4 separate regions of the Homo sapiens genome follow, and all the other regions are linked to region 3. The links come from fine-mapping of genetic effects on gene expression. A gene starts in region 3. Each other region holds a variant in brackets. All regions are shown on one strand. Distances are from middle to middle.

Region 1 (8,111 bases), 33 kb after region 3:
TGCCTCCATTAGCTTCACAAAAGTGGTTGGGTTTCAGGGCAAGGCCCATTGTCATTTAAACTGTAGCCGAAATGACTTCCAAAGTTAGCTTGGCCCAATAGCCCAGGAATATTTAAGTGGAAGGCAAGATGGGGGATGGGTTAGCTTAGCTCTCTTTCACTCTCATAGTTTTCTCACTGGTATAATTTTTGCAAAGGCGGTTTCATGCCTGCCATCTCTTTCGTCGCTACCTCTCCCAGTTCCCATTCTTAGCTGTTTTATGAAATGCTTCTAGTTTCATCCTCTTATACCAAGTTCTGGGAGACTGATTTGAGTAATAATAAAACTCCAGTTTCCCATACAGCCGGCTCTGCGTGAATTAAACTCATTTTCTATTGCAATTTCCCTGTCTTGATAATCAGTTCTGTGTAGGCCGTGAGGAAGGAGAACCCGTTGGGTGATTACGAGACTGTGTTACTGCCCACTACCTAATGGATACATTTAGCCTGGTATCCAAACCCATCTAATTATGACCATAACTATATTTATCACCTTGCTCTGCTTTCAAACGATATGACACACAATGAATGAAAACTTTCATTTTTCATCTTCATTTGTGCTGTTCCCTTTGCCTCAAATAGCCCTCAACTTGCCTACAGTAACTGTAAAATTTGCCACCTAAAAAAAAATCTCAAAATCCTCTCTATGCTTTGATGTCCAGCAAAAAAAAAAAAAAAAAAAAAAAAGTTATCAGTATAGCTCTATTACTCTCAACCAGAGGTGGCATTTTTCATCTTTACCCATAAGCCCCATGGTATATTTCTTAGTTTGGGAAATTATATCATAATACTTTGAATCTGTCTAGTCAGAAATTTAGATAATTTAAAAAAAAATTATTTTTCTGAAAGTATAGCTGGATCTAGCTTAGGATCTACATCTATCTAATATAGTTCCTTAACATTTGTTAAATGGCCACGGATAAGTCCTGTAATGCCATACTTTGCTTTAGGATCATGTGACTAAGGGGTAAGGAATTGGAAAGCAATGGGGAGCTAGCAGAATTTGAAAAATTATATAGGTAGGTTATTTTTCCTTAATACATTGAAATAGCCTCAAATTCTCAGAGAATACAATGTTTAATCCTCTAATATCTGTAGAGTTCATGGCTCAAATTTGTATTATTTGAATAAACTACTAATAGATTAATAATTACTCAACTAAAACACTTTGAAATGTGAGAGTTCCCTTATCTCCCTCGCAGGCATATGACAGAGGTGTGGCTTCTCACACCTTTGGTTGCCCTTGCCCTACCACCCAAACCCCTAGGGGGAGCATGCAGAGGGGCAGGTGCAGAGGCCATGGGGGGTGCTTTTGGGCTCTGGCCCCACAGCAGTGTCTAGGAGTGGATGTTGGAGACTCCTGAAGCCCAAGTGGGCATGTGTTACAGTGTGCTCTTTCAGCTTAGCCGTCTGCAGATGGCTTGTGTTAATCAGGTCATTAGACCCCATGCCTTATTGCAAGGGCAGGGGTCCAATGTGACAGCCTAAGTTCTTGCTCAGTGTACCAGAAGAATTGGATCACACGTGGGCTGGAAGGATGAGCACAAGGTTTTATTGAGTGGTGGAGGTGGCTCTCCGCGAGACGACTCTCAGCCAGAGAAGGAGGATGGAGGGGAAAGGTGTTCTTCCCCTGGAGTCCACTTGTTCCTGTTCTCCTCTGGGTTCAAATACCTCTTCCCTCCTTTTCTGCTGTGCTGTCCCACCACTCTCCACAGCTCTGTGCCGCTCTGTTCCTCTGCTCCTCTGGATGTTCAGCTCCTTGTATCTGTGCCTGCTAAGATTTTGGGTTTATATGGGGGAAGGATGGGGGGCATGGCGGGCCAAAAGGCACCTTTTTTGGTGTGAAAACAGAAATGCCTGTCTTCTCTTAGGGCCTTAGGTCTTCAGGCTTGAGGGTGGGGCCTTTGCTGAGGGACCACCCTCTTCTACCCAGTATTTCCCTGTCTCCTGTCCATATCAACATTACTAACTTTTTCATCTGCAGACTAATAATGCTAAGGTGTGGCATTTTTCAACTGTGAGACTATGTGAAGGTTTTTCCTGTCCAACTGATGGCATCCTCCCATAATTCTACCCCTTTCTTAAAAGAATCTTTTGCAGTATTTCTCCAAGTTTATTCTAGAGAATTTCTTGTCTGTGAAATGCTCTAGTTAATCAAAATTGGAAAACGGAGCATATCATATCCCCTTCTCAAATTCACCAAAGTGAAGTCCTAATGTGTCTTAATGTATCTGCATGAGACAGGAAGCTGAGATCTATTCAACAACAAAAATCCAAACAAGCATCAAGAGGAGGAGTGTTAGCACTTGAGCCTAGGGAGACTGTGGCTCCTGCCTGAAAGATGGGAGCCTCAGTCACAGCTGCTTTACCAAGTGTCATATGCTATGTTTCTGAGGACTCCTGCTAAAGCTCCCTTCTCCCTCCAGCCAACCACTTTTGTTTTAGACAAGGGCTGGGTTTATGAAGGACTGTTTTCATGACTAAAGCTTTATAGAAGGTTTAAGATAAGGAGATGGAATTGAGTGAAGTAGGAAATATGAAAGCAGATATTATAATCTGGCTTCCTGATTTTTCACTAGCATTTTTGTTTATAAATTAGTTCTGTTCTAAGAATCCAATGACGTAATAGAAACTCTCAAAGATTCTTAACTTGAGATATAGGGAGTCTTTGAAACTGCTGAAATTACAGACAGCATTTATTGTTTATGAGCATTTCTGAATCTAGAGCTTTCACTAGATTTGTAAAGAATGTGGGCCAAAAGATTAAGAGCCAATCCTGTATCTTGTACTCAAAATGTTTGTAATTCTCACCTTTTTATCCCCCAGACTCCTCTTGCTCTCTCTTCATTTTCACAGTGTTACTGGAAAGGGGTCCTGATCCAGACCCCAAGAGAGGGCTCTTGGATCTTGTGCAAGAAAGAATTTAGGGCGAGTCCTCAATGCAAAGTGAAAGCAAGTTTATTAAGAAAGTAAAGGAATAAAAGAATGGCTACTCCATAGACAGAGCAGCCCTGAGGGCAGCTGGTTGTCCATTTTTATGGTTATTTCTTGATTGTATGCTAAACAAGGGATGGATTATTCATGCCTCCCCTTTTTAGACCATAGAGGGTAACTTCCTGACATTGTCATGGCATTCTTTTTTTTTTTTGACAGAGTCTCACTGTGTTGTCCAGGCTGGAGTGCGGTAAAGCAATCTTGGCTCACTGCAACCTCTGCCTCCTGGGTTTAAATGATTCTCCTGCCTCAGCCTCCCAAGTAGCTGGGATTACAGGCATGACCCACCATGCCCAGCCAATTTTTGTATTTTTAGTTGAAACAGGGTTTTGCCATGTTGGCCAGGCTGGTCTTGAACTCCTGACTTCAGGTGATCTGCCTACCTTGGCCTCCCAAAGTGCTGCAATTACAGATGTGAGCCACCAAACCTGGCCTGTCATGGCATTCTTAAACTGTCATGGTGCTGGTGGGAGTGTAGCAGTGAGGAAGACCAGAGGTCACTCTCATCGCCATCTTGGTTTTGGTGGGTTTTAGCTGGCTTCTTTACTGCAGCCTGTCTGTTCTATCAGCAAGGTCTTTATGACCTGAATCTTGTGCTGACCTCCTATCTCATTCTATGACTTAGAATGCCTTAACTGTCTGGGAATGCAGCCCAGTAGGTCTCAGCCTCATCTTACCCAGCTCCTATTCAAGATGGAGTTGCTCTGGGTCAAACACCTTTGACAACATCATTAAGCCTCAGTTCTCACACTGTTTTTGTTTTGTTTGTGTGTGCAATGATGGGCAAATCTCTGCCTTATAGGATGGTAGAAAAAAGGAACTTAATATTGTAATGACTGTTTTGTGCCAGATAATTGCTTTAAACTGTATCAGCATCTTATTTAGTCCTGTTAATGATATGAATGTTATCTTCATAACAGCTGCCATTTTATTAAGGACTTATCAGAGAAAAACACTGTTCTAAGCACTTGTTACCCATTATTACATTGAATTTTCATAACAACCCTTTGAGGTAAGCATGATTATACCCACTTTAATAGAAGTGAACTGTAGTTTTGTAATGTTAGGTTCCTTGCCAAATGTTACACAGATAGTAAGTGATAAAATCATATGCCCTGAAATTACATTATGCTGCCAAACTTAAATTTCTTTTTTATCCTTTATATTAGTATATTCTTAGGTTTAAACAAGACAACTAGTTAACACATACTAGATTTTGTCCACAGTTCCTGGCTCATAACTCCCATAGCCCTTGTCACTATCTTTTAACGTTGGGGCACATTAGGCCTCAGAAGTAGGCCTCAGAAAACAGAGTCTCTCTCTCTCTCTCTCTCTGATCTTCTTCCGCCCTCCTCTCACCTGCCCAGGGCAGCACTCTAATCTTCTCCTGCCTTTCTGATCTTGGGTCATAAGACCTTCATTTCCAAAGATGTCCTGTGTCATACCCTAAAGGAAGGAACACTGAACAGAGAGAGGCTCAGAAGAATCTGGACAGGCCTTGCTGTGTTTACATCATTCCCTTTATGTCCAGTCACATCTCTACATGGTTGTCAGTTGTGCCTATTTGATGAAGTCCCC[A/G]TATAAGGCTCACAAGGACAGGGTGCAGAGAGCTTCCAGATAGCTGAACAAGTGGAAGTTCCTGGAGGGTGGCGTGTTCAGGGAGGGCATGGAAGCTGTGTGCCCCTTCCCCCATACCTTGCCCTACTCATTTCTTCATCTGTTTCATTTGTAGTATCTTTTATAATAAACCACTAAACATTAGTTAGTATTTCTCTGAGTTCTGTGAGTCACTCTAGCAAATTAATTGAACCCAAGGAGGGTGTCATAGGATCCCCACATTATAGCTGGTTGGCCAGAAGCACAGGTAAACAACCTAGGGCTTTCAATTGGCATGAGAAGTAGGGGGCAGTTTTGTGGGACGGAGCCCTCAGCCTGTGAGATCTGATGCCATCTCTAAGTACACAGTGTCAAAACTGGATTGGAGGACACCCAGCTAGTATTCACTGTGAAATTGGTTGCTTGCTTGATTTGTGGGGAAAAACCCACATGCATTTGATCACAGAAGTCTTTTGTGTTGACAGTTGATAGTGTTCAGTGAGAGAATTAAAAAAAAATTGAGTTTCTTCTTCAACATACTCTCTCAATGTGAAACCACAGAAACTATTTCCATTCAAAGATGGAAATGGTTTGTTTGCATCTTAGTTTTTATTTATACATCTTAGAAGAAATGTCCAAGCTTTGTTTTTTCTCTCACCCTATATATAAAATTACCTATGAGGCACAGATTTTTATGATCCTTGATTATATAGACTTTGTCCAAATTGTGTGTTTTATAGCATTACTGTAACTTGTTATAGTAATCTTTGTGTATATTATGTCTCTTAACATTGTCTTCCATATTGTTAATGACCATCTCATATTTATCTCTGTATCATGTATATCTTCAACCAATGTGACTGGCTTAGGAGAAAAAATTAGTGAACAATTAACTAGTGTTTGTGTAATCTATACAATTGTCAAGGTTACAATTGCTATTTTTGAAGAAATCGTTGTTGTTTTTCTCTTTGTTTCATCTCAGTTCCATTTTGTCATGTATTCTTTTTTTTTTTTTTTTTTTTTTTTTTGAGGCGGAGTCTTGCTCTGTCACCCGGGCTGGAGTGCAGTGGTGCAATCTCGGCTCACTGCAAGCTCCACCTCCTGGGTTCATGCCATTCTCCTGCCTCAGCCTCCCGAGTAGCTGGGACTACAGGCACCCGCCACCACGCCCAGCTAATTTTTTTTTGTATTTTTAGTAGGGACGGGGTTTCACTGTGTTAGCCAGGATGGTCTCAATCTCCTGACCTCGTGATCCGCCCGCCTCGGCCTCCCAATGCTGGGATTACAGGCGTGAGCCACCGCGCCTGGCCCCTTGTCATGTATTCTTAACCTGTGTTATATCTAAGAGAAGCTGTGAGAGACGGGACCATTTGTGGATAGGTGCAGAGGGCATGAAGTAGCCCAGAAAGAATCTTTGCCATTGACTAAATTTTAGCCTAGTAAAAAACATCTGGTAACCACTGAAAAACTAGAACAGTGTGATATGACAATGCCCAGTTGAATAAGAAATTCAAATAGTTTATAGTAACAAAAAATAATTTTTACCACATTGTGACTAGTGCCCTAAAAACAAATTTGAAGGAGCAGAGAGAGAGAGGAAGTGAGTTTTCGCTGGGGGCTGGTGAGTGGAGGCTACTTTATGAGCAGTTTTGAAAATTACAAGTTAGGGAAAAACTCTTAGGGGAGTTTTAAGTGGTGAGCAACAGGCACTTGAGGTTACAGGAGCAGCAGCATAAAGATATAGAACAGAGAGGCCATTTGGCAGTCTTGGGGAAACTCCAAGAAGTCGAATGTGTCTAAAGCTGTGGTTCTCTCTCTGTGTGTGTGTGTGTGTGTGTGTGTGCGCGCGTGTGTTTGTGTGTGTGTGCATGTGTATGTATGTGTGAAATCGCTAATACAGAGAAGCTGTTAGAACAATTTTCTCACTTCCCAAAAATGTCCGTTCATTCATGGGCCTAGGCAACTCTCCTTTGTGTGTCTTACAGCCCAACACTGTCATATAAGGTGTGGTTCTATAATGAAACAGTTTTATCTGTTGTTTACGGAGCTAGTCAGCCTGTGTTATGCTTGTTACTGGTTGAGGGTGTCCAGGTTCTTGGCTTCTTGAACAAAGAATTGGACAAAACTCACAAATGAGGCAAGGAAAGAATGAAGCAACAAAAGCGGAGATTTATTGAAAATGAAAGCACACTCCACAGGATGGGAGTGGGCCTAAGTAAATGATTCAAGGCCCTGGTTACAGAATTTTCTGGGGTTTCAATACCGTCTAGAGGTTTCCCATTGGTTACCTGGTGTATGCCTTATGTAAATGAAGAGGGTGGAGTTAAGTTACAAAGTCATTTACTCAGTATAGGCCTTGTGTTAATGGAGAGGGTGTTACTCCTGGGGGTTGTGGCCCATGTAAACGGAGAGGATGAAGTGAAGTGACAAAGCCCTTCGCATTCCTGCCATTGCTGAAGTGTTTCCACTTTATTTAGTTCTAGGAAGTCAGTGTGAATTGGCCTTATGTTCCCTGCCTCCAGAACCTGTTCTCCTGCCTCACATAGACCCTTTTTTCCCTTTGCCAACTTCACTTCTTTTACAGCCACCTCACTACCAATGTGTCTGTCTCCTAAGTCAAACATCAGTGATTCCTCTGTTTTCTCTAAACCCTTCTTATGTCTTCTACTTCTCATCTCTTTCTTGGTCAAAAATCTTTCAAAAATGAGTAAGAATGCAGCTATTCAGGCAAACTAAAAATAACATCACAGTGATATACAAAACCAGTGTCATTTCACAAAGGAAAATTATCAATACTAGATCCTGAAAAAGAAACAGCGAATGAAAGCCATTTACACAACTCCATTGTGTAATTGACACATTGAATCACTCATAAAACAGGTGCTCTGGGTCTGAATCTAGATCCTAGCTAGTCTGGTAGCTGAAATCATAGAATTATAGTAGAGTTTAGGAAATCATCCTCAAAGGAAAGATTATATGTTGATATCAAATGTATATTTCCTTTCTAGGCCCAAACCTGCACCACTGACTGCTGAAATACAGCAAAAGATTTTGCATTTGCCAACATCTTGGGACTGGAGAAATGTTCATGGTATCAATTTTGTCAGTCCTGTTCGAAACCAAGGTAAAAAAATAAGCCTAAGTTTTTTGTTAATTTGTTTGGAACTATTTATTGAACAGTTGCTCTGTGTGATGGATTTCGGGGATACCTAGATGGAATGGGCATGATCCCCTTTTTACAGAAATAGAAAATAGGTGGCCTATGAATTATTCTTTCCTTTTATATCCATGACAAACTTTAGTAAAAAATTTTCTTTTCTACTGAGCTTAGCATTTATTCAGTACTCTTCTCAATATATTTTCCAGGTAGCTAGTGACAATCAGAGTGATATGTAAGACAAACTCATTTGTCCTCCTAGTAGGAAAGATTCTAGTAGAAGCAAAGAATTGTGTACCATTCTGCAAGTGGTTTGTTGGAATCTT
Region 2 (8,111 bases), 47 kb before region 3:
TGCATCTTTCTGTTATGTTTAATATGTTTTCTAGATGTTAAAACTGATAATGAAGTGCATACTTTCTCTCTTTTTTTTTTTTTTTGAGATGGAGTCTCTCACTGTCACCCAATCTGCCTCCCAGGTTCAAGCAATTCTCTGCCTCAGCCTCCTGAGTAGCTGGCATTACAGGTGCCCGCCACACCACGCCCGGCTAATTTTTGTATTTTTGGTAGAGACAGGGTTTCCCCATCTTGGCCAGGCTGGTCTTGAACTCCTGACCTCATGATCCATCCGCCTTGGCCTCCCAAAGTGCTGAGATTATTAGGCAGGAGCCACTGCACCTGGCCAGGTGCATACTTTCATCATTTTAAAATAATGAACTTTTTTCTCAAAGTGATGACAAGCTGGTTCTAATAGTATTATAATGCATCTGTACTGGCAAAGTGGTAAGTGGTCAATCTATCCAAATGTTATTTGCAAAGGTAATACAAATCTAGTATGCTTCTTATATGAGAAGTGTGAGAGATGAGCCAATATAAATAAACTAATAGACCATCATTTTATGAGTTTGAAAATGTGTAAATCATTCCAAGCTAGAGGAAATCAGAGAAAGCTTCATGGATGAGTAACATTTGTTCTGTAAGGTAGATATATTTTCAACCAATGGAACAATATAAGAAAGATATAGGGATAGAGTAAGACGTCTTTTGTTGTTAGCAAATTCTCATTGGAACACACAGTTAATGGAAGCGTAGATATTTACATATGAATTAGGGTCTGAGCTGTAACGTTAAGTCAAGAAGCTTAGATTTTGTGCAAATGATAATATAAGAGCATATTTAAATAACTGAGTGACAGACTTAAATCTGAAACTTAGGGGAATTAAAATTATTCTTGCAAGAGATTTGGGGAGAGGAGAAAAACTGCGGGATTGGATAAAATTGTCAAATGCAGACTACCTACTAAAATCTACTTTTTAAATACTGTTCACTCATTCAATAAACTTATATTGAGGATCTCTTATGTTCCAGGCAAGTTGTAGGTTAATTCCTTATTATCAATTTGTTTCATGTCTTTTCCTAGTTTATGGGTATTATTTTAAAAATAAAAATGACTGCCCATATCTTGACTTCTAAATACCATTCTCCATGAAATGAAATGAGCACTCATTGGAGAAATGACTGGCTCATGGGCTGGAGCAGAGAAACTACAAGATGAATCTAGAACATCTTTTAGTAACAGAAAGTACGAAGAGTCTAAATAATGATAGGGCTTGTCAAAGGACACAGGGGCCAGCTCTAAGCAGTTCCCTTGGGCAAACCTAGAAAAACTAGAACACTGCCAGGCCCAGTGGCTCACGCTTGTAATTCCAGCACTTTGGGAGGCTGAGGCGGGTGGACCACCTGAGGTCAAGTGCAAGACCAGCCTGACCAACATGCGTCATGGTGGGCACCTGTAATCCCAGCTACTTGGGAGGCTGAGGCAGGAGAATCGCTTCAACCGGGAAGGCGGAGGTTGCGGTGAGCCGAGATCGCACCGTTGCACTCCAACCTGGGCAACAAGAACGAAACTCCGTCTTAATTAAAAAAAAAAAAAAAAAAAAAAAGAACATTAAAATAATGATAGCAAAGGATTATAGCCCATGAATAAAGAATTCTTAAGTTCACACTGATATAAATAAAATATGTAAATATATAAATTTAAAAAATGGAAAGTTTGTCCTCCCAGTGGATAACGAAATGGATAAGGAAATATAAAATTACAAAATTACAAGTTGTCAACCAGCATAATAATTGATCCAGGCAAAATGTGTCAATACTTGCTAAAGCTAGTGGATAAAATTTGAGAGAATATAGGATATTTACAAATATACAAAGTATTTCCCCATAGCAACATTATGTAAAAAGTGGAAAAAATGTAATTTTCAGTTCGGAAATGTAGCAATCAAGGAATCAAAGTTAACGTCACAAGTAATGTGATTAATAGATGCCATATACCATGCTGATACACACAAACATATGAAACACCCAAATTGAGAGATATCTACAATTAAATGATCTATATTCTTCAAGAAAATTTCAAGATAAGCCAGTTAGGATATAGAAGCCTGAAAAATCACATCACTTTCACCCAAGCAATGAGAAAAAGTAGAAAAAAGTCTACAAATTGTAATTGTATTTGAGCCAATCAGAGAACTGAGATCACAAAGCAATCAAGGAAATGGAATCCTAAGGAGTGATGGGTTCCTGATGAGAGATGGGACACATGAAATATGTTACATTTGGGAGCACACAGAAGGAAGAGATGATCATCATAAAAGCAGTTAGAAGAATACAACTGATATTTTAATGAATTTCTAAAAGCTAGATGTAGATCAGTGTGAATTTAATACCCTGGGAGTCCTAGATACATGGGAAGCCCATTCTTTCTCACTGGTTTGTTTGTTTCACTGCCCCTTGCAGAGCAGGGATACCCCACAGGCAGTGTGCCCAGAGTAGCCCTCACTAGTTTGTTTTTTTTGTTTTTGTTTTTGTTTTTTGTTTTTTGTTTTTTGAGACAGAATTTTGCTCTTGTTGCCCAGACTGGAGTGCAATGGCACAATCTGGGCCCACTGTAACCTCCACCTCCTCGGTTCAAGCAATTCTTCCACCTCAGCCTCCCAAGCAGCTGGGATTAGAGGCATGTGCCACCATGCCAGGCTAATTTTGTATTTTCAGTAGAGACCGACTTTCTCCATGTTGGTCAGGCTGGTCTGGAACTTCTGACCTCAGGTGATCCACCTGCCTCAGCCTCCCAAAGTGCTGGAATTACAGGCATGAGCCACTGCACCTGGCCTCACTAGTTGTTTTCCATGTGCATCCATCACGTGTTCATGAGAAAGGTGGGGACGGGGACAGAGACCTGAAAGAGCTGCATTAGTGACATGGGATGCTGCGCCTGGCTAGGTGTGTGGGTGGAGGAGGAGCACTTGGAGAAGCCCATTTTGTACTCTAGGCCCTGCATGAGTATAAGGTGGGGATTGGCTGCCACTTGGGAATAGAAAGGAATGCTGAGGCTTCTGTGGACAGGGACTAGGACAGGGACTATGTAAGTTTGAGGCTGCAGCAGGAGAGCCAAGAAAATTCTGCTCCCGCCTTACTCTCAGTAACAAACATCACCAGCCTATCACTAAGGGAAGGGCAAGGGCACAGAGAGAAACCACCAATGTGGTTTAGGAGTGCAGGCCTACAGAAAGCCAACGGTGGAACAGGAATTCTAGGAGAAAGCCTCTAGCACTCTGGGCCATGCATTAAGCACAAGATAGTGGTGGTTTGCACTAAAGGAATTTGAAGTCTGTGGTACACAGAAGGAACCTAGCAACCGAAAAGCCCAAAACCAGCTCAGCAACAGACTAGATTTACTCAACCCTTCCCTTCAAATTGCCTGATAGAAGAAAAAACTGAAAACTTCCAGGCATAAATTTTAGTCACCTCGTCTCAGTTTTATTCATCTAGTTTCAATTTCTTCCTTTTACTAACAATGTCTGACATTTATCTAAACATTATGGAACACATAAAGCAAGTAAAAGGACATATGCTCAAGAAAGAAAAGAAATGAAGAGAAGCAGACATGGAGACACCTCAGAGGTTGACAGTCAGACAGGGAGCTTAAAATAACAATGACTAATACGCTGAAGGAATCGGGTAGTGGAAAAGGTGAATCCATGCATGAAAAGATGGGAGATATTCAGAAGGAAGGAGGAAAGTTTAAAAAGAATCAAATGGAAATGCTGAAAATAAAAACACAATATCAGAAATGAAGAATTACTTCAACAGGCTTTTCAGCAGAATAGTCAGAGAAATGGAAAGCAGCAATAACTTGAAGATAATTAAAACACAAAGAGGAAAAAAAGAGCTAAAAGGCAAACAGAAGCATGGAAGAGTTGCGAAACCAGACAAAATCATTTAATATACACATACTTGGAATCTCAGGAGGAGAAGAAAGAATGAAGCAGAAGAAATATTTGAAGAGATAAAGGCCAAGACTTTTTCAAATATAATGAAAGATAATAAACCAGAGTTCCTGAAGCTTCAGAGAAACCTAAGCAGCAGGACAAATTTATTTTAAAGAGATTTCAATTATATATTAAAGATATTTACAAATATTAAATCTGTTCTATACACCCACATTGTAAATTATATTTTAAAGGCAATTATATTTTAAAGACATATAAAAAACTAAAGTCTGTTATATTTACCCACATTATTACTGTGTCCAAATGCCTTTGTGTGTCTATGCATGTGCATGAGTGTGTCTATGCATGTACATGAGTGTGTCTGTGTGTTTTCCTTCAGAAGTTCATCTGATATCATGCTCAGTTTGCCAGATCTTGCTGTAACATCTCTTTTCATGCAAATTGGCTGGCAATAATTTATCTCAGTTTTTGTCGTCTGAGAAGCACATTGCTTTCTTATTTGCAAGATGTTTTCACAGGGCATCATTGTAGGTGGT[G/A]AGTTGCTGTTTCTGTGTTTGCTTTCCATATGTCAAATAAGCAACTTTATTGTCTTCTGTCTGGCCTCGTTTCAGAAGCCAAGTCTGCTATTTCATATCTGCTTCCTGGTAGAAATTGTTTCTTTTCTCTTTGATTGACTTCAAGATTTTCCCTTTACCTTTGTTTTCTTAATCATTTGACCGTGAAGAGCTAGAGTTTTTCTTCATATTTATCCTGAAACTCTGAAATTAGTATATCAGATAACACATCTCATTTATTTTTTGAGGCCAGCATTGTTCTAGCAGCAAAACAAGATACTCTTAAAAAAAGATTAATATTAATAATTTAAAAAAATGAGCAAGTCAAATCAGAAATGTATTTTAAGAAAGGAAAATATATCATGAACAAATAAGGGATTACTATAGAATTCAAGGTTTGGGGCCTGGCGTAGTGGCTCACACCTGTAATCCCAGCACTTTGGGAGGCTGAGGCCAGTGGATCACCTGAGGTCACGAGTTGGAGATCAGCCTGGCCAACATGGTGAAACCCTATCTCTACTAAAAATACAAAAATTAGCCAGGCATGGTGGTGCATCCCTGTAATCCCAGCTACTCAGGAGGCTAAGGCAGGAGAACCAGGAAGCAGAGGTTGCAGTGAGCCCAGATGGCAATACTGCACTCAAGCCAGAATGACAGAGTGAGACTCCAACTCAAAAAAGAAAAAAAAAAAAAATTCAAGTTTTGTTTACTATTTGAAATCAATCAACCAGTAAATTTCTATACTATTACTGGACTGAATAAGAAAAGCCATAAGATTATTTCATTAAATGCAGAAATAACAATTGACAAAATTCAACATACCTTTAAGATAAAAATAAACTAAGTAAAGTAGATACAAGGATATATGGGTTATTTATTTATTCCTGGTGAAATTTGTTACTTCGTTCTTTTAAAGAATTTGTTCACTTAATCTATGTGGTGAAGTTTTTGACATAAAGCTGTTCAAAATATTTTCTTATATTCTGTTAAATTTAGAACAATATATATTTATGCTTCCTCCTGTCCTTTCATTTCTGATATTAGTAAAATGTGCTAACTCCTGCTGTTAGAGATTTACCAAATGTATTGAATTTTGACAAGAAGCAGTTGTTGGTTTCACTAGTTTTTTCTATTGGTTTTCCAATTTAATTTTATTCATTTATTTTCTTGTCTTTATTATTTGTTTCCATTTCTTACTTTGGGTTTAATTTGTTCTTCTTTTGTTAGTTTATTTTAGATAGCATTATTGAGGTATAACTGATATACAATAAAATGTATATATTTAATGTATACAGTTTATGAGTTTTGACATAGCATATGCTCATGAAACCATCATCACAATCAATGTAATGCACATATCCACCATTTCCAAAAGTTTCCTATGTCCCATTGTTTTATTGTTTGGTTGTGGGTTTCCTTTTTGTGATAAAAACACTTAACATAAAATTTGCCCTCAACAATTTTTCAGTGCATAATATAGTATTGTTAACTATAACTATTATTCTATAGTGCAGATCTCTAGAACTAATTCATCTTGCATAACAAAAGCCTTATATCAATTGAACAACAAGTCCACAACTCCCTGTCCCCCTGCTCCTTGGTAACCACTATTCTACTACCTGTTTTTGAGTTTGACTATTTTAGATACCTCATATAAGTGAAATCATGTAGTATTTATCTTTCTGTGACTAGCTTATTTCACTTAGCATAATGTCCTTCAAGGTCATCCATGTTGTGGCAAATGGCAGAATTTCCTTTTTTTTTAAGGCTTAATAATATTCTACTGTATGCAAAAAAAATCACAATTGTTTTCTATCCATTCATCTTTCAATAGGTATTTCAGTTGCTTCCATAATTTAGCCATTGTGAGTGATGTAATAAATACAGGAGTACAAATATCCCTTAGAGATCCTTATTTCAATTCTTTAGAGTATATTCCCAGAAGTAGGATTGCTAAATTATGTGATAGTTTTATTTTCAATTTTTTGAAGAACCTCCCTACTGTGTCCCATAGCAGCTGCATTATTTTACTTTCTCACCAACAGTGTAAAAAGGTTCCAAGTATTATACCTTCTCACCAAAATTCAACTTTTGTTTGTTTGGTGGTATGAGGTGATATCTCACTTCAGTTTGATTTGTATTTCCTTGGTTGTCAGTGATGCTGAGCATCTATTCAGATAACTGCTGACCTTTTATTTGTATGCCTCTATCAGAAAAAGTATCTATTCAGGTTTTTGACCATATTTTAATTAAGTCATACTTTTTTGCTATTGAGTTATAGTAGTTCCTTGTATATTTTATATACTAACTCCTTATACATGGCTTGCAAATATTTTCTCTCATTCTGTAGGTCACCTCTTTACTCTGTTGATTGTTTCCTTTCTTGTGCAGACAACCTTTTGTTTCATATAGTCTCACTTGTCTATTTTTGCTTTTATTTCTTGTGCTTTTGGTGTCATAGCCAGGAATCATTGTCAGGACCAATGTCATGGAGATTTCTCCCTGTGTTTTCTTTCAGGAGTTACACAGTTTCAGATCTTACATTTAAGTCTTTACTCCATTTTTAGTTTATTTCTGTGTACAGTGTAAGATAGAAAGCCTATTTCATTATTTTGCTTGTTGACACCCAGTTTTCCCAACACAATTTGTTAAGAAGACTATTTTTTCTCCATTGTGTATTATTGGTACTCTTTCAAATATCTGTTAACCACATACGTGTCGGTTTAATTCTTGGCTCTATATTCTGTTCAATTGGTCTTATATAACTGTCTGTATGTCAGTACCATAGAGTTTTAATTACTGTAGTTGTGTAATATATTTTGAAATCAGGAAGTATGATAACTCTAGCTTTATTCTTTCTACTCCAGGGTGCTTTGGCTATTCTGGGTCTTTTGTGGTTCCATATGAATTTTAAAATTGTTTTCTCTATTTCTCTAACAAATGCCATTGGGATTTTGATGGCAATAGCATGAAATCTACAGATTGCTTTGGGTAGAATGGGCATTTTAACAATATTAAGTCTTCCAATCCATAAACATGGGATATGTTCCCATTTGTTTGTGCCTTTAATCTCTTTCATTAATACTTTGTTGTTTTCTGTGTGTAAGTCTTTCACTTCCTTGGTTAAGTTTATTCCTAATTGTTTTAGTCTTTTTGATGCTATCATAAATGAGATAGTTTTCCTAATTTTCTTTGTGGATAGTTCATTGTTACTGCCTAAAAATGTTACTGAGTTTTTTAGGTTAATTCTGTATTCTGCAACTTTACTGAATTCATTTATCGGCTTTAACAGTTTTTGGTGGTCTTTATGATTTTCTACATATAAGGTAGTATGATATTCATATTATCTCCATTATTAGTTCATTAGCTATAACTTTAAGTTTCTTAGCAGCTGTTCTGAAGATTATAATAAACATTTATAACAGTACCACAAAGTATTAGAGAAACTATATGAAAATATTCTGCTGTAAATTTCTTTCATTATATGTGAAGTACAAAAACAACATTTAAAGATTAATCATGATAAAGATACATACTATAAACCTTATTGCTACTGTGAAGCAATAGCAACACAGGTACTGTTTAGTCCTACGAATGTTATCTAGTTTCCTCTATGCACA
Region 3 (8,111 bases):
AGACTTTTGAGTTGGTGCTGGAACAAATTCAGTCTTTTGGGACTACTAGGATGGAATGACTGTATTTTGAATTGTGAGAAGGCCATGAATTCTGGGGGTCAGGGACAGAATGCTGTGGTTTGAACATAGGTTGTCCCCCAAAAGTCATGTGTCGAGAGGTGGGACCTTTGAGAAGTGATTGGCAGTGCCCTCATGAATGGATGAATCTATCATGGGTTAATAGATTAATGGATTATGGAATTATCAAGGATTAGTTATCATGAGGGTGGGTCTGTAATAAGCACTAGTTTGGCCATCTCTCATGACCCCCTTTGCCACGTGATACCCTGTACTACCTTGGGATTCTGCAAAGAGTCTCAACCAGCAAGAAGGGCCCCCTTCGATGGGGCCTCTTGACCTTGGACTTACCTGTCTCTAGAACTATAAAAAATAATTTTCTTTGTTTTAAATTACCGAGTCTCAGGTACAGTTCTAGCAACAGAAAACAGACTAAGACAGATGCTGATGTCCCTGGTCCTAGGCTACACTTTGAGAACCACTGCCAAGTAATGCTGCCTCTCTGTAAACCTGCTTTTAATGATGGGAGCCTACTGACAGACCATGTTTTGCACATAAGCTCACTTTTGTTTTATATAATTTTAACATATACTGAATTTTTGGGAATGCAACCTCTTGATAAACCTTCAACAGAAAATTCTACTTTGTTCTCCTGGGAATTTGACCAAGAATTGTCCAACATCAACAACTTTGGTATGGTGTTTGAGTGATTAATTGATAAGGTATTTGAGTTATAACTCATCAGAAATCATTTGTGCTCTCAGAAAAAAGTTCCTATCACATTTACCACGATTCTACAATTTTACATAGAAGTGAAACCACCTTTGCAAAAATTACAACTGTGAAAGAAATCAGACCTAATCGACTCCATCTTGCTTCTAATCTTTAAGCTGTCCTTTTTCATTCCTGGGCATAGGTGGAACAAACTTTGGGAAGTAATTCAGTTCATGGTTTGACTCTGAAACAAAATTGATAATAGCCCTTTCCCAAAAAGACTCCCTTCTTGCCTGGGGACCAGTCTGCCTTCGCAGGACTAACAAATTAGCTACAAGATTAGAAATTACAGTTTAGGGGTCATGTGGCCTCTGGCTCCAAGAGTCTGCACCCTCCCACCCTCCAAGTTGCTTCTGGGGATAACATCTCTATTGTAAAATCTAAGATCAGTGCTTGAGATATTTTACAGACCCTGCACTCCATAGATCAGCTGACACCACTGAGACCAGCAATCTGGCTCAACCATATCTGCCATCCCACCCAGGAACAGAAGATAGCAAGAAAAACTCACTTAGACCCCCTATGATTCCATCTCCAACCTAACCAATCAGCACTCCCCACTTCCCAAGCCCCTACCCACCAAATTATCTTTGAAAACTCTGATCCCTGAATGCTCGGGGAGACTGATTTGAGTGATAATAAAACTCCCGTCTCCCCCACAGCCGGCTCTGTATGAATTACTCTTCCTCCATTGCAATTCCCCTGTCTTGATAAATTGGCTCTGTCTAGGCAGCAGGCCAGGTGAATCCATTGGGTGGTTACAGAAGTGTGAAGAGCAAGTATCTGAGTGCCTCATTATGTTTTCCAACACAGTCATACTTGAACATTTTACATGATGGGATATAACTTATTATACTAGAAATATATTTAAAATATCTGATTTCTTCTTTATATTACATTTGGCATTACATTTCTTTTTATTAAGTGTGTAAGCAGTTTATATATTAATTTCATTTCAGAAAGTAAAGGATTTGGGGTCTGATCAGTTTGAGAATCAATTTTTTGTGTGTGCGTGGAATGGAGAGTTAGTAGTTATTTTTGAGAGAGAACAGTATGGGAATTATTAGATTAGTAGAAATAAACTAAACTGAAAATCAATGTGCCTGAGGTTCATTCTTAAATCTTACTAAGTGGCAATATGACATTCAGCAAGTGATTTAACTCTCTGAATCTCCATTTCCCAATTTTAAAATGAATCCATTAGACTAAGAGGTCCACAAGATCTTTTTCTATTATTCAATCATTGAATAAAGACTGTTTTAAACTTTCTTTACAATTAAGTGTGTTGCTTTGATTACATTCATCAAAGAAATTTCCACCTAAACTGGCTCTTCAATATTGATGACCTAATACAAATTTAATGTTTTAACAATCAGTAACACACCTTCCTAGAGATTCAGGAAGGGAAGCTTAATCTGTCAGGGTATCTTTAAATAAATAGTGTGTTAGCTTAATTATACAATGTCAGCTTTCAATTCTAAGAAGGTATATAAAACCTAAAAGCAAGGTGTTCCCCAACCCCCCGCCACCAACCCCGCCCCAGGCTTTGGAAATTTGTGCCCCCATTGAAGAGTATTTTCACCTCTGAACTTTCAAGGACAACTCCTTTTGCCTCATTGAAACTGGCTTTCAAGCTTGGCAACCAAGATAAGAATATTAAGTACACTTATTTTAACACTCAAGGACACTTTCTGAATAAACCAGAATCTAGGGAGATATAAGTGAATAATTTGGACCTGCTCTCTTTGAATGTTTATAATCTGGTGGAAAAAAAATGGACATATGAATATTGATTTGTGACCAGTGCAAAGGGGGCAAAAATTCATATCCCAAAGAAAACGGGGACACATCAGGTCTGTCTTGTTCATCACTGTGTCCACAGGGCCTGACACCTAGTAGGCTCAGTGGGAGAAAGGAGCCCCAATTACCAACAAAAGCCAGGAAAGAACGGGAGGCTCTTACGGAAAAGGGTGATACTTAAACTGAGCAAGGAGGCACCTGGAAATAGTGCCACCTAATAATTTTTGGCGATCAGACTGACACACTAGAACGGTTCATAAGACCAGCCTTCTCCCATTGGCTAGCTTCCTTCCTCACCCTTCTCACCCTGGGCAAGCCGCTTCCTCTCTCTGGGCCTCTTGCTTTTCCTCTGTAACATAAAAGGGGTTGAGCAATATCATCTCTGAGAGCGCCATGTGTGTGCGTGCCAGAGGGAAAACCCCCACAACGCTAATACATCAAAACTGCAGGTTTGCACAAAAACTGAATTCTGCTGAATGCAAACAGGCAAACAGCATTTACCAGGAAACAAAACAAAATCAAGCACATAAAAAAGTAGGAAGAGTTGGAAAACGGAAGGAAGATAAGTTCTCAAACAGCTGGAATAGTTGATGTTAGCTAGCGAAGTTTTTCAGAGGAAAAAACAAGAAGTTGGTTATGAGGCAAGTGGACCTGAGAAAAAAGACTAAAGGGGAAGAATAGCAAGTAAAACAGAACTCCACTTGCTAGATCTCTCCCTCTGTCGCGCTCTTTCACCTGACCCACTCCCTTATTCCCCCCACACCCTTTCCTTCTCTCCCTACGTTACCGCACAGGAACGAAGTCTGGGTCATGTGCGGACCGCTTGTGGCTCTTAAATCCTCTTTTTGTCACCCTGGCCGTGCAAAATTTTGAAACGTCCCTCGGCAAAAAAAATAAAAATAAAAAAAAAAAATCTGTCCCTGGCCTCTTCCCTAGTTCTGGGTCCAGTTGCAGCCAAGTGAGGGGCAGCGCGCGCTCCCAAGTCCCCGTTTCAGAGACGCGCACGCGCCTGGCGCCCAACCCCCAATCCCCTGCTGCTCAGTGACCCCGCCCACGGGTTTCCGGGCCGGCGTAGCTATTTCAAGGCGCGCGCCTCGTGGTGGACTCACCGCTAGCCCGCAGCGCTCGGCTTCCTGGTAATTCTTCACCTCTTTTCTCAGCTCCCTGCAGCATGGGTGCTGGGCCCTCCTTGCTGCTCGCCGCCCTCCTGCTGCTTCTCTCCGGCGACGGCGCCGTGCGCTGCGACACACCTGCCAACTGCACCTATCTTGACCTGCTGGGCACCTGGGTCTTCCAGGTGGGCTCCAGCGGTTCCCAGCGCGATGTCAACTGCTCGGTTATGGGTAAGCCGCCGGCTCGGCAGTCCTCCGGGTCGTCCTTTCTGCCCTTGAGCCCCTAACGCAGCGCCACGCCAACTACCGCTTCCCCCCAGGCAGACGCTTGTGGGTGGCCAGAGCATCTTGACTGGATTCGGGGACCCTTGGGGACCTTCTTCCCCGCCAGGCTCGCGAAGTTAAAGTTCATCTGCTGAGAACTTCTAACTCCACACTTTCTTGGTTATCTTGGGGACTCAACACTTTGATCAAGAACTTTTTTATTCCTCCCGCTTAATTTTGTTTGCTTTGAGAGAGACTTGGGAACTGCAATCGTTTGGTTCTCCAGTCCGATCTGGTAGCGTTATTTTTAAAATTTATTTTTATTTTTTATTACTATTTTACTAGTGAAGATAGATGAGCTCAGAGACTCTCGAGGATATAGCATGAAGTTTTCTCTTTTTGTTAGATGGTGGGAAAGGGACTTTCTGCCCAGCGATTTTGGTTTGAGCGGGTGTTGATGAGTACTAGAAAACGGCTAGTACCACTCTGCATTGTTTCATGCATTGCAAGGAGGTAAAAATTTTTTAAAAAATTAATAACAAAGAAAACTTAACTCTGAACCTAGTAATTAGAAATGCCCAGAGTCTGCACAATGTTTGGCTCATGGAAGGCTCTCAATAAATACCTAGTGTTTGAACATACTGGAGATATTCCATATGCCTTCAGATAACATGGTTACCCCTAGAACAAAGAACCTAGTGAAGGGGGTGGGGTGGAAAAAAGACAATCACTAGTTAGAAGAGTCACACTGTGGTCTACCCAAACCCTCTTACAGCCTGTGACTTCTGCAGAGTCAGTAAAAAATCAGCTATAATTTTCTTGTCAACAGAACAAAGATTAAGTCATTTGTTACTAAAGAAATACCTTTTTAACTGACTGTATAGCATTTCATAATCCTGAACATTGTAACTTTTTTTTTTTTTTTTTTGAGAATGGAGTCTTGCTCTGTCACCCAGGCTGTAGTTCAGTGGCGGGATCTCGGCTCACTGCAACCTCCGCCTCCCGGGTTTAAGCGATTCTCCTGCCTCAGTCTCCCGAGTAGCTAGGATTACGGGCACATGCCACCACGCCCGGCTAATATTTTGTATTTTTAGTAGAGACGGGTTTCACTGTGTTAGCCAGGATGGTCTCCATCTCCTGACCTCGTGATCCGCCCGCCTCGGCCTCCCAAAGTACTGGGATTACAGGCGGGAGTCACCACGCCTGGCCTTTTTTTTTTTTTTTTTTTTAAATTTGAGTTTGAAGGTTGGGGCAGAAAGAGATCAGGATTTGCACTGCCCTGTCACATGCAATCTCCCATGTCAGAGCATTACTCTCAAACATGGAAAAACTTTAAAATACACAACTCTCCAGATGGACACAGCTGAATCATTTTCAGGAAGGCTCTGCCTATAAAATTACCTTTGGCCTTAATTCAGTAATTAAAGGCACCCACAGGTCTGAGCCCTCATCTATGAAGGTTAAACGTATCATTCCTATCAGCACTAATTGGTTTTATAGGATACAGACCTCTAGTTTGCTGAATAAACTTTGGAAGGATTCAGATTATGAGGTTCTAAACTGTAGAGCCTTTGAGGAGAAAGGTACCCCATTTCTTCTCCGAATAGATCATTTTGTGTCTTCTCCTGGGCTTAGCACATTGTCTTCCTTAGGATCTGATAGTCTGTTTATTTATCTTTTTGTTGTCATACCTTTTATTCTTGCATTTCCCACTTTTGACTAGCATTTTGCCTTTTCTCCGTTTCTGGAAGCCTGTAATTTTCAACATTCCCCATTTCTCCTTTTGTTCAGTGGAAAAATTTCTTCAGTGTTGGGATGCTCTGGAAAGGTACTGTAGTTTTGGGGGTCTCCCTGCCTGCTGGGCTGCATAGCATATCTCTCTTTTTTGAGACAAGGTCTCACTGTGTTGCCCAGGTTGGAATGCAGTTGTGCAATCATAGCTCACTGCAGCCTCCAACTCCTGGGCTCAAGCAATCCTTCCACCTCAGCTTCAGCCGCTCAAATAGCTGGGACTACAGGCAATGCACCACCATAACCAGCGAATTTTTAAAAATTATTTTTGTAGAGACAGGGTCTCACTATGTTGCCCAAACTAGTCTTGAAGTTCTGACCTCAGCCCCGCAAAGTGCTAGGATTACAGGCGTGAGCCACTGCTTCTGCTTGCATTATCTCAAATTTTTAGAGCCTAACTTCACAGTCTTGCCTCGGAGCAGGAACTGTTTGAGGCAACAAGATGGAGCCTCTGGTTTCTTCACTAGGCAGACTGTGCTCAAACTGGGTAGCATGAAAGGAAAGCAGCACAATTAAAATTGAAATTGGGGGATTCTTTCCCCTATTGAAATCCAAATAATTTTCCTTTATTGTGCTTTTTTTTTTTTTCTTTAGGACCACAAGAAAAAAAAGTAGTGGTGTACCTTCAGAAGCTGGATACAGCATATGATGACCTTGGCAATTCTGGCCATTTCACCATCATTTACAACCAAGGCTTTGAGATTGTGTTGAATGACTACAAGTGGTTTGCCTTTTTTAAGGTTAGTTTTGTTGGAAGTTGGATTTACATTTTCAATGATTTGATATCTGAAACCTCTTCTGATTAGTAGACCCTCAGAATTTTAATTTTAGATTAAGAAGATGACCGGAATTGACACCACTCTTCCCAAGAGTAGTAGTAGTTGGTATAATTTTGCCACTTTATTTAAAATTATGATTTTAGTAGGTTTACAAAATACCAGTGCTACATTTGAATATGTATAAATTATGTTTAAAATTTACATTTTGGTAAGTATGACTAAATTCTTAATTTATTTTCCTTATTACTACCACTTTATTTCTAAATGTTGCCATAGTCATTTGGCTTTGTTCTAAATCTGTAGGAAAGATAGAGAGATTACACATTTTGTTTTCTTGCAGTTACTATGCTGTCCTTCCTATCACTACCTGTTGGCTGAGGTAGTGATAGGCCTAAATGATTCATTATCTTAAATGTACTAAATATGTTGAGTAATTTTTTCTTCTAAACTAACAGAAAGAGAGAACCTAGGAGTTACTCCCTTAGGCTGGTTAAAGTGAAAGGTAGCCAAGTCAACCCAGCTTGTTTCCTTCTCTCATTAGGAAAGAACTATTGTTCATTCTCATAACACACTTTTTCCAATTGCAAACATACTCAGGGTTAAAATAGTTTAGCACAAATTGCAGCCCATTTCATTTGTTCTTCACAAGCTGGAACTTTTCTTGTAAGCTAAATATTAAATGGTTCAAGTAAATTGGATACATAAGCCTGAAACTAGGCGTTTCTCATTATACATAGAGTATAAATTAAGACAGACTTTTTCATGGTGAAAGGTTTACAGCCTTTAAAACATCTGGGAAGAAGTGGGAAAGTAGGGAATAACTCTGTTAAATATGATAAAAGACAAAGCACCAACAAAGGCCTAGTTCTAAACTTGTTATAATTTCTCATGGGAGTTGTGGTTTGTCACAAGGTTATGGCGGTCCAAGCAAGTTTACAATATTTTTTAGAATAATAACTCCCAGAAATATTTTTAAAATAAGGACCTTTCTTTAATATGGAAAAAAAAAAGATGAAATAGAGAGGAAGAGGTTGCCTTTCCTCAACTGGATTTGCTGGTGTGATATGCAGCTGGTGGAAACCAGTTTGTCCATGCTAGCTGTTGATGGCCACCAGTCCACTGAATTAGTGGAAACCCATGCTTAACCAGTTGTTAACTATTTTTAGTATCATTTCCAGATGCTACGCATTTTTTTTGTAAAAAACATACTTACAATAGTATCTATATAAATTTTTAAAATTGTAATGTATATGTGGTATATTTAACCTGAAAATAATCTTTGGTGTATACGTTGATGAGCCTAGGCCTTTGCAGACCTCTTACAGTTACTCTGTCACAGCCCTTCAAAGGTTCTTTGACTTCAGATTAAGAATCAATTGCATGTGGAATGCATGTGCAAAGGAAGAGATATTCAAGGCAATTGTTACCATGTACCATAAACCTTGTACATAATTTTTTGTCATTTTCTTTTCCTCTGTCTCTATCCCTTCTTCTTTGACACACAATAGACACCTAGTCAATTTATTACAAAAAA
Region 4 (8,111 bases), 26 kb before region 3:
CATGTATCCTCTCCCTTTCTTATGTTGGTGTAGTCAACATTCTAATGTTCACAATTGTTTATGAAATATTTTGTCTATTTTTCTATAAAATTGTAAAATCTTAAAAGATAGAATACAAGTTTTGCATAATTTGAATCCTGGCTAAGGTCTAGTGAGTGTAAAATAAGAAATTAACATATTTATATAGATTTTTTAATTTCAAGAAGAAAATATGCTTTCAGAATATACAAGCAACACTTCAGTATATAAACCCACCCTTTGGTGGGTTTGTCTTTATGAATAGACAAATACACATGCACAAACTTTTTATTTTTCCCTTTGGAAAATTGATTTACCATACTATGTATACTTTGACTATATAATTATTTTTTCACTCAGACTGTCATGGATAGCTTTTCAAGTCAGTATTGGAAGATCTAACATATACTTTTAAAAATATCTGTACAAAATGGCATAGTATGAAGATATGACAATTTATTTAACTTCTTTTTTATTAATGATTATTTAAGGTATTTAATTGGTTTCGAATTATTAATTCTCACAAATTATGCTGACATTATTATTTGAGTTCTTGAACACTTTCAAGTATTATTGTACTACAGGTTGCCAATGTCAGTACTGCTAAGTCAAAATACGCACGCTTTTTCAATACATTTTTTCAAATTATTTTCTAAAAGGGGTATATAAGTTTATACCACTATAAAAGGTTTATTGAACTGCCTATTTTCTCAAACCAGTGCTGTTCAACACAGAAGCCACTAGCCATATGTAGCTATTTAAATTTAAATTTTAAAAAATTAAAAATTCAATTTTTAGTAACATTGGCAATATTTATTTATTTATTTCCATATAGGATCTTGCCCTGTCACCCAGACTCTGTAGTGATGTGGCGTGATCATGGCTCACTGCAGCCTCAAACTCCTAGGCTCAAGAGATCCTCCCACCTCAGCTTTCAGAGTAGCTGGAGCTACAGGTGCCTGCTGCCACACCTAGCTAATTTTTTTTCTTTTTCTTTTTTTTAGAGATAAGGTCACTGTGTTGCCCAGGCTGGTCTCACACTCCTGACCTTAAGCAGTCCTCCCACCTGGGCCTCCCAAAATGCTAGGATTACAGTTGTGAGCCACCACACTTAGCTGGCAATATTTTAACTGACCAATAGCTAGCTACATGTAGTTTTTGGTCACCATAATTAACAACACAGATACAGAAAGTTCCATCATCACAGAAAGTTCTATTGAACAGTGCTACCTCAAATTATGGTTAACATTGGGTGTCATGAATCTTTATGAATCTTTTACATTTTGGGCAATATAATTTTTTTCTTTTTTTTCTTTTTTTTTTTTTTTTTTTAGAGACAGAGTCTTGCTGTGTTGCTTAGGCTGGCTTCAAACTCCTGAGCTCAAGTGATCCTCCCACCTCAGCCTCTCAAATAACGGGGACTACAGGATCCAACACTGCAGCAGCAATATGATACATTTATCAAGGCCTCATTTTAATTTTCCTTCTTATTCAAACTGTAAGCATTCTTAAAGTGTTTATTGATTATTTCTATTACTTCTCATGTTAAGTGGCTGTTCATATTCTTTCTTCATGTTTCATAGGATTGCTTGACATTTATTATTAATATGCAAGACAAATATTTATCAACTGACTCAATGTATCTATGAGGTAGCAGAGCAAAACACAATTTAAATAACATTACTGTGACATTATTTGACCCATAAAAAGGGTTTGAACATATAATAAGCAATTGCTTGCAAAGAAATGCCTCATAATAAATTATAAATTATGTATCTTTTTATCAAAACAATTTTCCAAATATTGTAGATTGTCAACACTTGATTAATAAATTTGAGATTATTAATTGAAACCAATAAAACTGCTTTTCTTGATAAAGAATTAAATACATCTAATTCATCTTAAATAAGCCCAACTTTATTCCTGGTTTTCCTTATGTAGGAAGGCTTTACTGAATTGAGAGACAGACTGCATTAGGTCCTACCATGTTTGAAAAAGTGCTTTACAATAAAGATGAGATTGTAAAGCCCTCTCCCCCAAAACATAAAAAAGGGTACCTCTGTATGCTGTAGATGTAAAAATGTAGAATAAATCAAAATGTAAATGAGGTTTTTCATGCTTTTAGTTTTGATGATTATAATTTAATGCTAAGAATTTACTAGCAGCTGGCTGGAAGACAGAAATAATAGCAATTTCAATGTTTCTATAGCACGTTATAATTCCCCCAAAATTTTCATGCAAATCACTCTTTGCGCAAAAATAAATGAATGACAATGAAGTTGGGAGAAAGCTTGAAAACGCAGAGTTGGAAGGTTAAAGGTTTAGGTTACAGGAGTCAGAAAAGCTTTTTTTGGAATCTTAGAAGCTTTCTTGGTACTGGCCAAAGCTTTTCTTGGTACTGGCCAAAGTCAATGTACCACGAAAGGGAGGTTTGCTCAGATTGGCCCTGATGGTGCACAACAGAAGCATTGTCACCCAGGATGTCACTTGGCAGCTTGGAAAGTAATGGGGTCTGAAGGCTAGAAATAGACCCTGAGAACTGGGGCACACCCCAAGGAAATCGGGGGAAATGAGAAATGAGTTAATGTCTGAGAGTAATTCCAAATATGGGGATTAGAAAGAATGGACCACATAACCCAAGATGGAAGATATACAGTTTTTTTGACTTGTAAAATAATGATGATGATGATGATGATGATGAATGATGATAGCCACCTATGCTAAATAACTGTATTTAATCTTCACAATGATTTTTTTTTTTGAAAAACCTAATGTTCGCTTTGACAAAACTGGTTCAGAGCTGTAATAAGTTGCCAAAGCCTAATCACAAGCAGATCCATGATTCTAACTCAAATCTTTTAACTTAAAATTTTATGCCCACAACCTCTCCTATCTCTGGGGAAGTGAAATAGCCTGAGGATCTGTCTCTATCTTTAGGCACAACTGAAATGAGTGACAAGACTGTTCTTTAATAAATGAATGTGTATAGGTTGAACGCCAAAATTCCAGACATTGCAGGGAAGCAGTTTTGAACTCTCTTTGGTGGATTGTGTTTGTGTAAGGAACAGAAGCTTCTCTTCAGGGGTGATCTTATCACTACACAATGTCAAAGATAAATGTATTTTCAGCCTCTGCATTAAACTCACCTTGCCACCTCTTTGTCTTTGTGCTCCTCACATCAAGTGCCTCAGCAGCCTGTGATTCTGTGTTTTTATAATCTCTCTGGTTTCAACCAAAATGGAAAAAGTAGTCTTAGGTATATATGAAGGAAGAAGAACAGCATGATCTCACCTAAGAAGGACTGAGGCTATCCAGTAACGAAAATCAAGAAAAAC[C/A]TGCAACAGAGGCCTCAACCCTGTATTGCGGGTGGGGTGGGAGTCTCACAGTGAGATGGCATCACCACTTCATGTTGCCCAATACCCTTGCTAAGAGTGTCTCATAGGAAGAGTCTCTGATATGAACCTAATATTTTATTTTCTTTGAATTCCCTCAGATATAAATTTGAGATAAGGATAGGTATCTGACTGGAGTTGTAGGAAGATTAAATGTGATGATTATGTAAGCATTAATCAAGTTCCTGAGTTGAAGGAGGCACTAATAAGAGGAGACTTTTTGAAGTGATGGTGAGTCATTTCCTCCTTACAAAATCTTTCTGAATTCTCTTTTCTCACTGGTAAAATAAGGATACTAGTACTGTACTGTTACTGTGACAATTAAAAGAGATGCAAATGCAAAGTGTTTGGCTTATAGGAGGTACACAAGAAGCAGAAGGTATTAACATAGCTGTTTCTTCACTAGGGTCTGTCTGTGTGGTAAGAGGATTTGTAGGAAACATCTCTGGGATCCCATCCCTAATTTTCTTCTTAGCATCCTCAACGATTTATGTGTAGACACTAACAACTCACTAGATTACAGATCCATTAAAGGGGAAAGGTGTACATACCCCAAATGCCCAACTATAGGGGAATAATTATATATATTTTGAGACTTCTCTTTGATGGCATATTCAGTGTAATCATTACTAAATTCAGATAATAAAATACTATGTTACACAAAATAATAGTAGGCATAAGTTCTATGTAACAGCAATGTAAACAAATATATGTACACAGATAAAGTCTGTTAACTCTGTAAGAGCAGAGGCATTAGTGTGGGAGTGTGGCTGGGGTTGGGGAGGGTGTTTGCTCTGTGAGACCAGGGACGTGTGTGTGTATAAGAGTGTGCTTGCCTATGCATTGCAGCATTGCAGTTGTCCAGTAGGATGCATGGCACAGATGTATTAGTCAAATAATATATGAAGTGGGGGAAAAGGAACATAGAAAAACAAAACAGTTCTCTTAAACAGAGTTTAAATTTTGCTTTAAAATTTTTCTGTGCTGAATTTACAATATGAAAAGCAGGCAATAAAAATTGTAGCCTCCTAGAATATCAGAGAAAGTTACATTTGGAACACAGAGTTACAAACATGGTACCTTCCCTCCTACCCCACCTCAAAGCAACCATTGTTAAGAGTTTTCTGGTTATCTAAGACTTTTTAAAAATACATATACAAACATAAAATTACACACATTCTCTTACCAGGTAACTTTTGTTGCACATCATGTATTTTGGCCATCCTTCTATGTTTGTATTTAAAGCTCTTATTCTTTTCTTGACAACTCCATAAATATTCCATAGTATGTGTTTTTGTTTTTGTTTTTGCTTTTGTTTTTGTTTTTTGAGATGGAGTCTTGCTCTGTTGCCCAGGCTGTAGTGCAATGGCGCGATCTTGGCTCACTGCAACCTCTGCCTCCTGGGTTCAAGCGATTCTCCTGCCTCAGCTTCCCAAGTAGCTGGGATTACAGGTGTGCGCCACCACGCCTGGCTAATTTTTGTATTCTTAGTAGAGATGGGTTTTTGCCATGCTGGCCAGACTGGTCTTGAACTCCCAACCTCAGGCGATCCACCTGCCTCAGCCTCCTAAAGTGCTGGGATTACAGGCGTGAGCCACCATGTCTGGCCAATAGTATGTGTTTTCCTTAATTTTCTTAACCACTTGCATATTACTCACTATTTATGATTATAAGAATGCTATAATTACTTTCCTTTTTTTTTTTTAATAGAGTTCCGCTCTTCTGGCCCAGACTGGAGTATAATGGCAGGATCTCGGCTCACTGCAACCTCCGCCTCCTGGGTTCAAGCTATTCTCCTGCCTCAGCCTCCTGAGTAGCTGGGATTACAGGTCTGCGCCACCACACCTGGCTAATTTTTGTATTCTTAGTAGAGATGGGTTTTTGCCATGCTGGCCAGACTGGTCTTGAACTCCCAACCTCAGGTGATCCACCCGCCTCAGCCTCCCAAAGTGCTGGGATTACAGGCGTGAGCCACCGTGTCCGGCCAATAGTATGTGTTTTCCTTAATTTTCTTAACCACTTGCATATTACTCACTATTTATGATTATAAGAATGCTATAATTACTTTACTATTTTTTTTTTAATAGAGTTCCGCTCTTGTGGTCCAGGCTGCAGTATAATGGCAGGATCTCGGCTCACTGCAACCTCCGCCTCCTAGGTTCAAGCTATTCTCCTGCCTCAGCCTCCCGAGTAGCTGGGATTACAGTCATGCGTCACCATGCCTGACTAATTTTTGTATTTTTAGTAGAGACGGGGTTTCACCATGTTGGCCAGGCTGGTCTTGAACTCCTGATCTCAGGTGATACACCCGCCTCGGCCTCCCAAAGTGCTGGGATTACAGGCGTGAGCCACTGCGCCCGAACTGTAATTAACCTTTTATCCATGGAATTGTAGAGTCAAAGCATCACATGAACTTAAAATTTTGATCAACATTGACAAATTCCTCTTCAGGAAATGCTATTTCTATTATTGTACCCATCAATAGTACAGCAAAGTGCCTGTTTTCACACGTCTTCATTTAAACTGGATATGGTTAATCTATTACATTTTTATCAATCTTATAGGTAAAATTAATATATATTTTAATATGCATCTTGAAGTATTGATCAGAATTATTTTATTTCATTTAAACGACTAATTTGTATCTCTGGTTCATTTTTCTATTGGGTTTTTTTCTTTTCTTTTTTTTTCGAGAGGGAGTCTCCCTCTGTCCCCCAGGCTGGAGTGCAGTGCCGCGATCTCGGCTCACTGCAAGCTCCGCCTCCCGGGTTCACACCATTCTCCTGCCTCAGCCTCCCGAGTGGCTGGGACTACAGGCGCCCGCCACCACGCCTGGCTAATTTTTTGTATTTTTAGTAGAGACGGGGTTTCACCGTGTTAGCCAGGATGGTCTCGATCTCCTGACCTCGTGATCCGTCCGCCTCCGCCTCCCAAAGTGCTAGGATTACAGGCGTGAGCCACCGCGCCCGGCCGGGTTTTTTCTTTATTAGTAAAGAATACGTACTTGTTCAAAAGGAAGTCTGAAATGCAATCACTAAAGACCCACGTTAAATTTAATTTTTTTTTTTTCCCTGGGAGAAGCAAATCATTTACCGCTAGGGAGAGTAGAAAAACCCTGACTAGGAGCAGAAAGAGTGAGAATTCAAAGTTGACAATTATTGCTCGAGCTGGCTTTGCCCTTCTTCCTTGCTCAAATGCAGAGAAGGCCTTCTGTTCATGAAAACAGGTATCTTAGCCAAAAACCAGAGCTGAACATTAGGGCTCTCAATTTTCCACTGGGGAGGGCGGGTTCTGCCTGTGCTTGAGACACTTCACCTTATAAAACAAAATTAGTTGATCCACTCAACAGGTAATTGCTAGTTAATGAGGTTACAGCAGGATAAAACAGATGTGCTCAGTACCGCTTAATGGTGAGGAGAAAAACAATTCTCCTCCTGGTCTTCAGTAGAGGTTGAAGGATAGGGGCAGGTGGATGAATAGGGGTGAAGGTAAATAGGGATGAATATACAGACTGATGCATTTTGAGAAACTTGTCAGAATGGGGTGAGAAAGAAGATACAGGACTGGTGAACATGCTTTTGGGTTATTGTTTAACAAACATAATGGTAAAACATTAAATTATTCTTTTACTGGGTAATTTTTTGTTACTAATTATTTAGCAAAGTTAATAACTGAAAACCATTCCTACATTGTTTTTTTCTTATTTGGTTAAGTTTTTTTTCAGTAAAACCTCCTTTGATCTCCTCACCCCATTCGAGAGATACTGAATTTGCATTCAATGAGTATATACTTCTGATAGCAGTATTACTCTATTTAGCTATGTTCACTTGTTAGAAAAAAAAAAAAGCAATAGATGCTTTGTGCTTTCCATGTTTGAATAAGCCCATTTCTGTCTATTTCTAAAAATGTCAAATGTTTTTAAATGTTTTATGGCTACCCATTTAAAATACATTTTTAAATGTAAAACTGTGATATCAGGATATCAAAACTAAAAGAATAAACATAGTCAAATTCTCTACTTTTAGGAAAAAGAAAGCATGACTCAAAAGTTTTAAAATACTTCCCCCTGTGAAAACATTCTGTTCCTCCCTTTCACACCCTTCATTTGTACAAGAAAAGATGAAGCAAAGGAGAAAAAGAAATGAAAATTAACATTGAGTTTAGGTGGCATATGTATTCCAACAGGGCATATGAGGGTTTTATCAGTAGCTACAGAAACCACTTCCTCTTTTCAGTGTTAGTTTACTAATCCCTTGAAGCTTGCGTGCACCTTCCACTCCTCACCTTCTGTAGCCACTCACCTCCTCTCACATCCCACATTACACTTCTATGTGCTATGGGATCCATCTAGGCAGTAGTTACTCTTATTTCAAAACAAGGATGTTAAAAATTACTCTACTCATCAACAAGTGAAAGATCATGCCTTGCAGCTTTGTGAGCTGTGCAAGGTGGCTTAGCTTCTTGACTCCGAAGCTTTCCTAAAGTAACAGATATTTGCTTACTATAAATGCTTCTTGAGTTGCTACAGGGGTAATTTGCAAAGAGAAAGCAGAGGCTCAGGATAATGCTAGATTTTTCATGTCTGGGTGGATAAGAATCTTTCCTTTTATGTTTATAAAATTAAAAATTGGGTGCATTCGGTATATGGCATACTGACAGAGCATGGGAACTGGACACTGACCAAGGTTTGAATAGTGACAC

The links. PIP is the estimated chance that this variant, and not a neighbour inherited with it, causes the effect.
Region 1: its variant is fine-mapped to the expression of CTSC in whole blood (INTERVAL, PIP above 0.99).
Region 2: its variant is fine-mapped to the expression of CTSC in whole blood (INTERVAL, PIP 0.95).
Region 4: its variant is fine-mapped to the expression of CTSC in blood mononuclear cells (TOPMed, PIP 0.94).

Annotation. Positions count from the first base shown.
Region 1 is chr11:88,300,171-88,308,281 of GRCh38, reverse strand. CTSC (cathepsin C) reads left to right here. Exons shown (of 7, transcript NM_001814.6): 5 at 7,637-7,752. Among named protein-coding and RNA genes, the nearest start is that of CTSC, 34 kb to the left of the region's middle. RefSeq lists enhancers at 1-801, 4,819-4,878. The variant A/G (reference allele first, on the strand shown) is at 4,611.
Region 2 is chr11:88,379,998-88,388,108 of GRCh38, reverse strand. The region is part of intron 2 of LOC101929174 (a long non-coding RNA gene); the gene reads right to left. Among named protein-coding and RNA genes, the nearest start is that of CTSC, 46 kb to the right of the region's middle. The variant G/A (reference allele first, on the strand shown) is at 4,474.
Region 3 is chr11:88,333,364-88,341,474 of GRCh38, reverse strand. It overlaps CTSC (cathepsin C), which reads left to right and starts at 3,739. Exons shown (of 7, transcript NM_001814.6): 1 at 3,739-3,974; 2 at 6,393-6,538. The coding sequence starts at 3,803. It overlaps LOC101929174 (a long non-coding RNA gene), which reads right to left and starts at 3,591. Exons shown (of 5, transcript NR_188511.1): 1 at 3,419-3,591. RefSeq lists an enhancer at 3,744-4,023.
Region 4 is chr11:88,359,288-88,367,398 of GRCh38, reverse strand. The region is part of intron 1 of LOC101929174 (a long non-coding RNA gene); the gene reads right to left. Among named protein-coding and RNA genes, the nearest start is that of CTSC, 26 kb to the right of the region's middle. The variant C/A (reference allele first, on the strand shown) is at 3,354.